3 separate regions of the Homo sapiens genome follow, and regions 1 and 3 are each linked to region 2. Evidence: fine-mapped expression QTL. A gene starts in region 2. Each other region holds a variant in brackets. All regions are shown on one strand. Distances are from middle to middle.

What was found. PIP is the estimated chance that this variant, and not a neighbour inherited with it, causes the effect.
Region 1: its variant is fine-mapped to the expression of SEPTIN10 in substantia nigra (GTEx, PIP 0.95).
Region 3: its variant is fine-mapped to the expression of SEPTIN10 in subcutaneous fat (TwinsUK, PIP 0.95).

What each region holds. Positions count from the first base shown.
Region 1 is chr2:109,524,259-109,527,016 of GRCh38, reverse strand. It overlaps a transcript of RANBP2 not described here. Among named protein-coding and RNA genes, the nearest start is that of SEPTIN10, 88 kb to the left of the region's middle. The variant T/G (reference allele first, on the strand shown) is at 1,378.
Region 2 is chr2:109,612,235-109,614,992 of GRCh38, reverse strand. SEPTIN10 (septin 10) reads left to right here and starts at 1,027. Exons shown (of 11, transcript NM_144710.5): 1 at 1,027-1,195. The coding sequence starts at 1,166. SOWAHC (sosondowah ankyrin repeat domain family member C) reads right to left here and starts at 629. Exons shown (of 1, transcript NM_023016.4): 1 at 1-629. The coding sequence starts at 503. It also overlaps a transcript of RANBP2 not described here. RefSeq lists silencers at 576-745, 1,006-1,255, 1,286-1,375 and an enhancer at 1,228-2,137.
Region 3 is chr2:109,359,931-109,362,688 of GRCh38, reverse strand. The region is part of intron 2 of SH3RF3 (SH3 domain containing ring finger 3); the gene reads right to left. It also overlaps a transcript of RANBP2 not described here. Among named protein-coding and RNA genes, the nearest start is that of MIR4266, 48 kb to the right of the region's middle. The variant G/A (reference allele first, on the strand shown) is at 1,142.

The DNA.
Region 1 (2,758 bases), 88 kb after region 2:
CAAGTGTGAGCTTTATGGCAAGCACTATCCTCATTAGACACTACACCAAGTCCTTGTGCATACCCAGCCCCCACGCAGGCAGGCTCGAGCCTCGTGCTAGAGTCGAACATGTGCTGGCTGAGGCAGACACATCTCTGAGAACACATTTGTAGGCCATCAGAGAGGGTCTCCTAGAGAGGAAGCAGCCCACCAGAGGGTTGAATAGGAATTCACCAGGCTGAGGTGGTCCCAGGCAAGGGTGGAGAGAGGGTGCATCTGGGGACCCAAGAGCCGGGGAGAATATCAATTGCAGCTGTCATCGGTGAGCCCCCTGTGCCAGAGTGCATGGCAGACACATCCGTGCACTTCCTCCCACCCTTGGGCCTCCAGAAAGTCTGCTTTCTGGTGTCATTCAAAGAGGAGGTGAGCCGGGCGTGGTGGCTCACACCTGTAATCCGAGCACTTTGGGAGACCAAGGCAGGTGGATCACTTGAGGTCAGGAGTTCGACACCAGCCTGGCTAACATGGCAAAACCCTGCCTCTACTAAAAATACAAAAATAAATAAGGCATGGTGGCACATGCCTGTAGTCCCAGCTAACTACTTGGAAGGCTGAGGCACGAGAATTGCTTGAACCCCAGAGGTGGAGGTTGCAGCGAGCTGAGATCAGACCACTGCACTCCAGCTTGGGCGACAGAATGAGACTCCATCTCAAAAAAATAAAAAATAAAAAGGAGGTGAGAGTGGCTCAGAGAGGCTGGTGCCTTGCCCAGGGCCACAGGCAACAGCAGGCAGCCCTGGGCTTAAACCCAAGAAAGGAAGCCTGTGCCTCGAATTTGAGGTCTCAGAGGGTGGCAGATGAGCTTTCCTGAGAGACAAAAGAGGGAAATAGCATCTGTGAAAAGACATAAGGAACTTAGTCTGGTGCTTACTGTGCCCTGATTCCTGGTCACCTGTGGGCGTGTGTCAGGGGCCCTGATGGTGACTGGTTGTGGTGGCTCTGGTGCTCGGGATTGCGAGCAGCTCCAGAACCTGGGTGACACCACCTCCCCACTCACTGGGCCACAGTGGGCTGCAGAGACTGTTAATGCTGAGGCTTCTGAGCTGGGAAAATTAGCAATAGCAGCACAAAGAAAATTACCCTCCATCTGCTTCCAATGACAATGGTAGGACCAGAGAGATCCCAAAACCTGAACAGAGGAGGAAACTCGGAGCCACATCCAGGACAGGCCTCCAGCAGGTAGGAAGTGCAAGTAGGAAACGCATCAATGATTTAGGGAGGAGGCTGCTTTTGCTAGTAAGGACAGTGGCCAGAGGGCCACTGAGAGCCTCCTCTCTGGCATCTTACAACAAATGGGCACCGAGCAGGTTGTCCTGAGCTACCCTGATGGTGACCAAG[T/G]TGTTGTCCAGGAATGTTTCCATCCTGCCCTGAATGCCGGGTGCTGGACCTCCTCATGGCTGCAGTGCCCTGGGGTTCACGTCACCAGCCCACCACTTTGTGGTTGGCGTCAGCTCGGGGAGTGTAGGCCTGTGGGGCTCCGGCTGGTGAGGGTGCAGGTAACTAGCACTTTCAGCCCTCAGGCATGGTGGCTCATGCCTGTAATCCCAGCACTTTGGGAGGCCAAGGTGGGCAGATCATTTGAGGTCAGGAGTTCGAGACCAGCCTGGCCAAGATGGTGAAAACCTGTCTCTATTTCTTGTAAAAATTCAAAAAAAATTAGCTGGGCGTGGTGGCACATGCCTGTAGTCCCAGCTACTCAGGAGGCTGAGGCAGAAGAATCTCTCGAACCCGGGAGGCAGAGGTTGCAGTGAGCCAAGACCGCGTCACTGCACTCCAGCCTGGGTGACAGAGTGAGACTCTGTCTCAAAAACCAAACAAAAAACAAAAACAAAAACAAAAATGATGTCAAGGGATATTTGCTGAAGCCTCATCCATAACCACAAAAAAAAAAAAAAAAACAACGGTAAGGAGCCTAAATGCCCACCATGGGAAAGTGTTGAACTAGTCTGTGATGTGGGGACAGCAGGCAGCTGCAGAAGCACTGAGTGAAGATGCAGAGGACGGATGAATCCTGACCCTGCTGAAAGGAACATAACTGAAGATCTGCGCCGAGGAGGAACCCAGGGCTTGGGAATTCCATGTGCCATTTGTTTCCTTCTTGATTCTTTTCCCTTCTTTTCTATATATTCTATAATTAGGACTTTCTCATTTAGAAACCCTTAAAAATTTAAAAATGGAAGGCCTTTTTAGATTTTTTAATTTTAATTTTTATTTATTTATTTATATATTTTTTGAGATGGAGTCTTTCTCTGTCACCCAGGATGGAGTGCAGTGGCGCGATCTCAGCTCACTGCAACCTCTGCCTCCCAGGTTCAAGAGATTCTCCTGCCTCAGCTGGAATTACAGGCATGCTCCACCACGCCTGGCTAATTTCTGTATTTTTAGTAGAGACAGGGTTTCACCATGTTGGCCAGGCTGGTCTCGAACTCCTAGCCTCAAGTAATCTGCCTACCTCGGCCTCCCAAAGCGCTGGGATTACAGGCGTGAGCCATCGCGCCCAGTGTTGTTTTGTTTTTTTTTTTTTTTTTTTTTTGAGACAGGGTCCCACTCTGTCACCCTAAGATCCCTAGCAGGAGCTGATATTCACAGAGCGTGTTATGGCTGCTTCACTCCGGCTTTCACACACATGATCTCATTCAAATCCCCATGTCATGAGAAGGTGACAGTGGGCAGCGTGTGACCACTGAGCCGTCCTTACAGTGGATGGAGGTCAGAGAAC
Region 2 (2,758 bases):
GGAGTCCGCGGTAGGGGCTGCACGTCGCGCCGCGAGTTCTTCCTGCGAGCCCCGGCGCTCAGGGGCGGCCAGTGCGCGGGGGCGGGGGGCTCTCCCTCGCCCAGCTCGCGGCCCTGTCCAGGGAGCGACTCCGGGGCCGCCGCGTCGGGGAGCCGATCGCGCGCCTCGGGCCCGGCAGGGCCGTCGGGGGCCTCGGGCTCGGCGGTCACCTGGATTCGCGGCGGGTCCCCGGAGGGCTCGGACGGCCCTTCACAGAACCTCTTCTTGAGGTGCACGTACTTGGCGCCGTCGGCGGGATCGACGCGCACAGTGGCCACGGCGTTCACCAGCTCCTTGAAGTGCGCGCGGGCGCGGGCGCGCTGCTCCGGTTCGCCGCCTAGGGCGCCCCTGAAGTGCTGCACCAGCTCGGCGTGCAGGGCCCGGCCCCCGCGCTCCGCCAGGAAGCGCAGCACCGCCTCGGGGCCCAGCGCCGCCTCGGGGCCCCACTCTGCCGGCCCCTCCATCCTCGACCGCGCTGCTCCCCCGCCAGCGGGCGGCTCAGCGCGGTCCCATAGCGACGGGCTCCCAGCGGCCGGCTCCCGACGGCGGCGGAGTCTGGCGGGCTCAGCGGGCTGCCAGCCTACGCGTCTGAGGCCAGAGGACTCGGCCACCGCCTCACTGGGCCGCGCCCGGGCGGACACGCCCCCCGCACCCCCGCCCCGCGCCCACGCCACCAGGCCACGCCCACTTCCGCTCCCCGCTGTCTCGGCCACACCTACCTAGGGCGGCCTCGCCTCAAGGCCCGCCCACTTCCGGCCTCGCGAGGGCCGCAATCACTGCTCCGCAGTTCCCGCCTGCATTCCTCGCGCCGTCTTCCTGGAGTCCCAGCTCTCCTTCAGCCCGCCCCAACGCTGACGCTCAGTCCTCAGGCGTCGAGGGTAGCTCCTGTGAGGGGCTCGCTTGGCGCAGGCAAAACGCTCAGCGCGCACCACAGGGCGTCCGCCCCAACCCCGCCCCCGGAGGCCTCCAGCTCGGCCCCGCCCCTGTCCCTTCCCCGTCGCGGAGGCAGCCTAGCCTCGCGCCCCGCCCGTTGCTTCTGCCCTCCGGCCTTCCCGCCGCCGTCGCCGGGACCAGCCGCTCGGGGCCGGGCTGATACAGCCGCTTCACCGTGCCCCTGCCCGCGACCATGGCCTCCTCCGAGGTGGCGCGGCACCTGGTGAGTCCCGCCGACGCCGGGGCCCCAGCCCCGCGCTCCCCGGCCCCCGCGGGACTTCCCGCCCTCGACCCACCGGCCCCCTGGTCCGGCCCGGGATTGTGACCCGCGCCCCCTCCGGCCCCGCCCGCCCAGTGCTCCCCGGCTTCCGCGGCGGCCGGGCGCCTGGGGCGGGAGAGGAGCCTCTGCGGAGCCTGGGCGCGGCCGGACCCCGGTTCGCGGGGCGCGGCGCCAGCGTCGGGACGGTGGGAGAGTTCTTGAACGACTTCCCGGTCTTTGCCAAAAGTTACATCCACAGCGGTGTTTGTGGGTCTCTTACGGCTATAACGGAGTTGAAGGCGCAGTGCGGACTGATTGAATAGCGGTCATCTTTTGCAGCCGTGAGCACTTCCGAGCCTCCCTGCCGCCGGGAGAAAGCCCGGCTCCCCTGGCTTTTCAAAAGCTCTCCCGTTTTATCCGATGGTGTGGTCGTCCAAGTTTTCCTCCATTGGGATTTTAAACCGTTTTTTTCCCGCCTTGACTCTTTTGTACTCTAAAAGAACGCGTTTGTTCACTGTTTTGAACCTTTCCAGTTACTTTTGTAGATTTATCTCGCTTGTTAGTAAGCCAGCGGTTTTCCAAGTGTGGTTACAACTATTTTCGTTAATAGTACCAAGGTCGTGTACATCGAGTTTTCCAAAGGCTACATGGTATGGAGTGATCTCACCGCCGTTTGGAGGCCCGATGCCTGTGTATTCTTAAAAACAAATTCTCCCTTTTAATTTTTGATAGTAAACATTGGTGGTTTTCATCTGTGTAAACAAAAGCTCTTTGGAGGCTGGAGACCAAAAAGTTTGAGAACCACTCTACTAAGCAACCTCCTACATGAGAAGTTTAAATTGTAGAAACAGTTCAGATTGCAGGCTGAGAGATTAGAGGATCCGTCCAAAGTGACACCGTTGGTTTGTTTTATAGAACCTGGACAAAGATTTTTCTCCCTGATTCAGCCCAGGTCTCTTTTCATTCTATCGCGTATTTTTTAAAAATCTCAAATTTTCTGTCTGGACCCCCTTGTCTCAGTTGCTGTGTTTGTGTGCATGTGTGAGTGAGGGAAAATTGAGGGGTCCTGGTGAGGAAAATGTGTTTTATAAATTCTTTGATTCATAGATTACGTATCCAAACAAGCTTGAGCAGAAGAGAACACTTCATTTAGCTGATGTTAGATTTATTTTTAATTGTACTTAATTTGCTTTGAGGCTAACTTTACTTATTTTCGAATTAAACTGTATTTTGCGTTAATTGTAGATTAATATGCAGTTGTAAGAAATAATACAGTATAGTGAGAACCCTGTACCCTTTATCCACCTTTCCACAATAAGATCTGGCAAACCCATAGTACGATATCACAACCAGCATATTGTCATTGATTGATACAGTGAAGATAAAGGATGTTCCCAGGACCAGGAGGATCCCTTAATGCCTTTTTATAACCACACACACTTCTTTCCTGCCCTGCCTCCTTCTTAACCCCAGACAATCAGTGATTCGTTTTTATTCTTATAATTTTGTCATTCCAAGACTTATATA
Region 3 (2,758 bases), 250 kb after region 2:
CAGCTGGAGACTTTAACACCCCTGAATCAGAAATGGACAGAGACAGCAAGCAGAAAATCAGTAAGGATATAACTGAACTTAATAGCACTTAATGGCACCATCAATCTACTGGATACAACTGACATCCACATAATATCTCAACCAACAACAGCAGATTACACATTCTTTTCAAGCCCACAGGGAACATTCACCAGGACAGACCATATTCTGGTCTGCAAAACACACCTTAACAAATTTAAACAAATAAAAATCATACAATGTCTACTCTCAGGCCACAATAGCATTAAATTAGACATCCATAATAGAAAGATAGCTGGAAATCCCAAAATACTTGGAGATTTAACAACATACTTCCAAGTAACACTTGGGTCTTAGAAAAACTCTCAAGAGAAATTTAAAAAATATTTTGAACTAAATAAAAATGAAGATGTAATTTACCAACATTTGTGAGATGCCGCAAAAGTAGCACCTACAGGGAAATTTATAGCACTGAATGCATCGATTAGAAAAGAAGGAAGATCTAAAATAAATAATCTAAATCTTCACTTTAGGACACTAGGAAAAAAAGAGCAAATTAAATGCAAATAATAAATAAAATAAAAGAAATAGAAGAAATCAATGAAATTGAAAACAATAGAGAAAAATCAATGAAACAAAAAAGATCAATAAATTAATCTTTAAAAAGATCAATAAAAATCATATGCTTCTAGCAAGCAAACTAAGAAAAACAGAGGACACAAAGTACTAATATCAGGAATAAAAGAGGGGGCATCCCTGTATGTCCCATGGATGTTAAAAAAATAAAAGAATATTATGAATAATGCTATGTCCACAAATTTGATAACCCAGATGAAATGGAACAATTCCTTAAAAGACAATCTGCTAAAACTCATACAAGAAGAAATATATAATTCAATAGGCCTTTATCTATTAAAGAAACTGAATAACACTTTGGGAGGCTGAGGTGGGCAGATTATTTGAAGTCAGGAGTTCAAGACCAGCCTGACCAACATGGTGAAACCCCATCTCTACTAAAAATACAAAAAAATTAGCCGGGCATGGTGGCGTATGCCTGTAGTCCCAGCTACTTGGGAGGCTGAGGCAGGAGAATTGCTTGGACCAGGGAGGCGGAGGTTGCAAT[G/A]AGCCAAGATCGCGCCACTGCACTCCAGCCTGGGTGACAGAGCGAGACTCCATTTTAAAAAAAGAAACTGAATAAACAACTAATAAACTTTCAAAACAGAAAGAACCAGGACCAGATAGGTTCACTAGTGAATTCTACCAAACATATAAATGAAGAAATTATACCAATTCTCTACAATCTCAATACTTCGCAGAAAGAATATTTCCTAACTTCTATGAGGTTAACGTTACCCTAATACCAAAGCAGACAAAGCCATTGCAAGAAAATTACAGACCTATATATCTCATGAACATAAACGCAAATATCCTCAACAAAATATTAGAAAATTTAATCCAACAAGGTATAAAAAGAATTATATACCACAGCCAAGTGGAATTTATCCCAGGTATGCAAGGCTGGCTCAACATCTAAAAATCAATAAATGTAACCTATCATATCCACAGGCTAAAGAAGAAAAATCACATGCTCATATCAGTAAATACAGAAAAAGCTTTTAACAAAATCCAATACCCATTCATGATAAAAACTCTCAGTAAACTACAAATAGAGGGGAACTTCTTCAACTTGATAAAGAACATCTACAAATAACCTACAGTTCACCTAATTACGAGAAACTTAATGGTGGGAAACTTTAAACTTTCCCACTAAGATCAAGGACAAGGCAAGAATGTACTCTCTGCCCCTGCTTTTTAACATCATACTAAAAATATTTGATAATACAATAAGACAAGAAAAGGAAATTAAAAGTGTACAGATTGGGAGGGAAGAAATAAAACTGCCTTTGTTTACAGATGACATGATCATCTATTTAGAAAATCTGAAAGAACCAACTGAAGAACTTCTAGAACTAATACTTGATTATAGCAAGGTTGCAGGATACAAGGCTAATATACAAAAGTCAATTGCTTTCCTATATACAGGCTGAGTATCTTTTATTTGAAATGCTTGAGACCAAAAGTGTTTTGGACTTCAGATGTTTTCAGATTTTGGAATATTTGCATATACATAATGAGATATCTTGGGTATGGGACCCCAGTCTAAACACAAAATTCATTTGTGTTTTATATATACCTTATACACACAACCTGAAGGTAATTTTATACAACATTTTAATAATTTTGTGCATGAAACAAAGTTTGTGTACATCGAGCCTACAAAAAGCAAAGGGTATCACCCATGCGGACCATCTGTGGTTGTTTGGCATCAGCCTCACTTCTGACTCTGGATTTATATGCTACCAATAAGCAATCATTTTCTTACAATTATTCACACATAAGTATTTAGCAGTAAAAAATATGACATATTATTAATACAGTGAAAAAAATTACATGTTCAGAGTAACTAAGCGGCACAGTAGCCTCTCCAGAATACCTGTATCAGCTGTTAAACAACAGCAACAACAAACAATGGCAGGCTTTCAGTCTCTACCTATGATGCTGTGCTTTGATTAAAAGGTAAGTGTATACTTTTTTTTTTTTTTTTTTGGTGCAAGGAAACATCAGAAGTGGTTAAGGGACCAGTAAGTGGGTCCTCTGTGGATGAGGAAACATTCTGCTGGATGGCTTTTAAAAATATTTTTCTGCAGTCATCTGCCTCATCAACAATGGTCATAGAAAT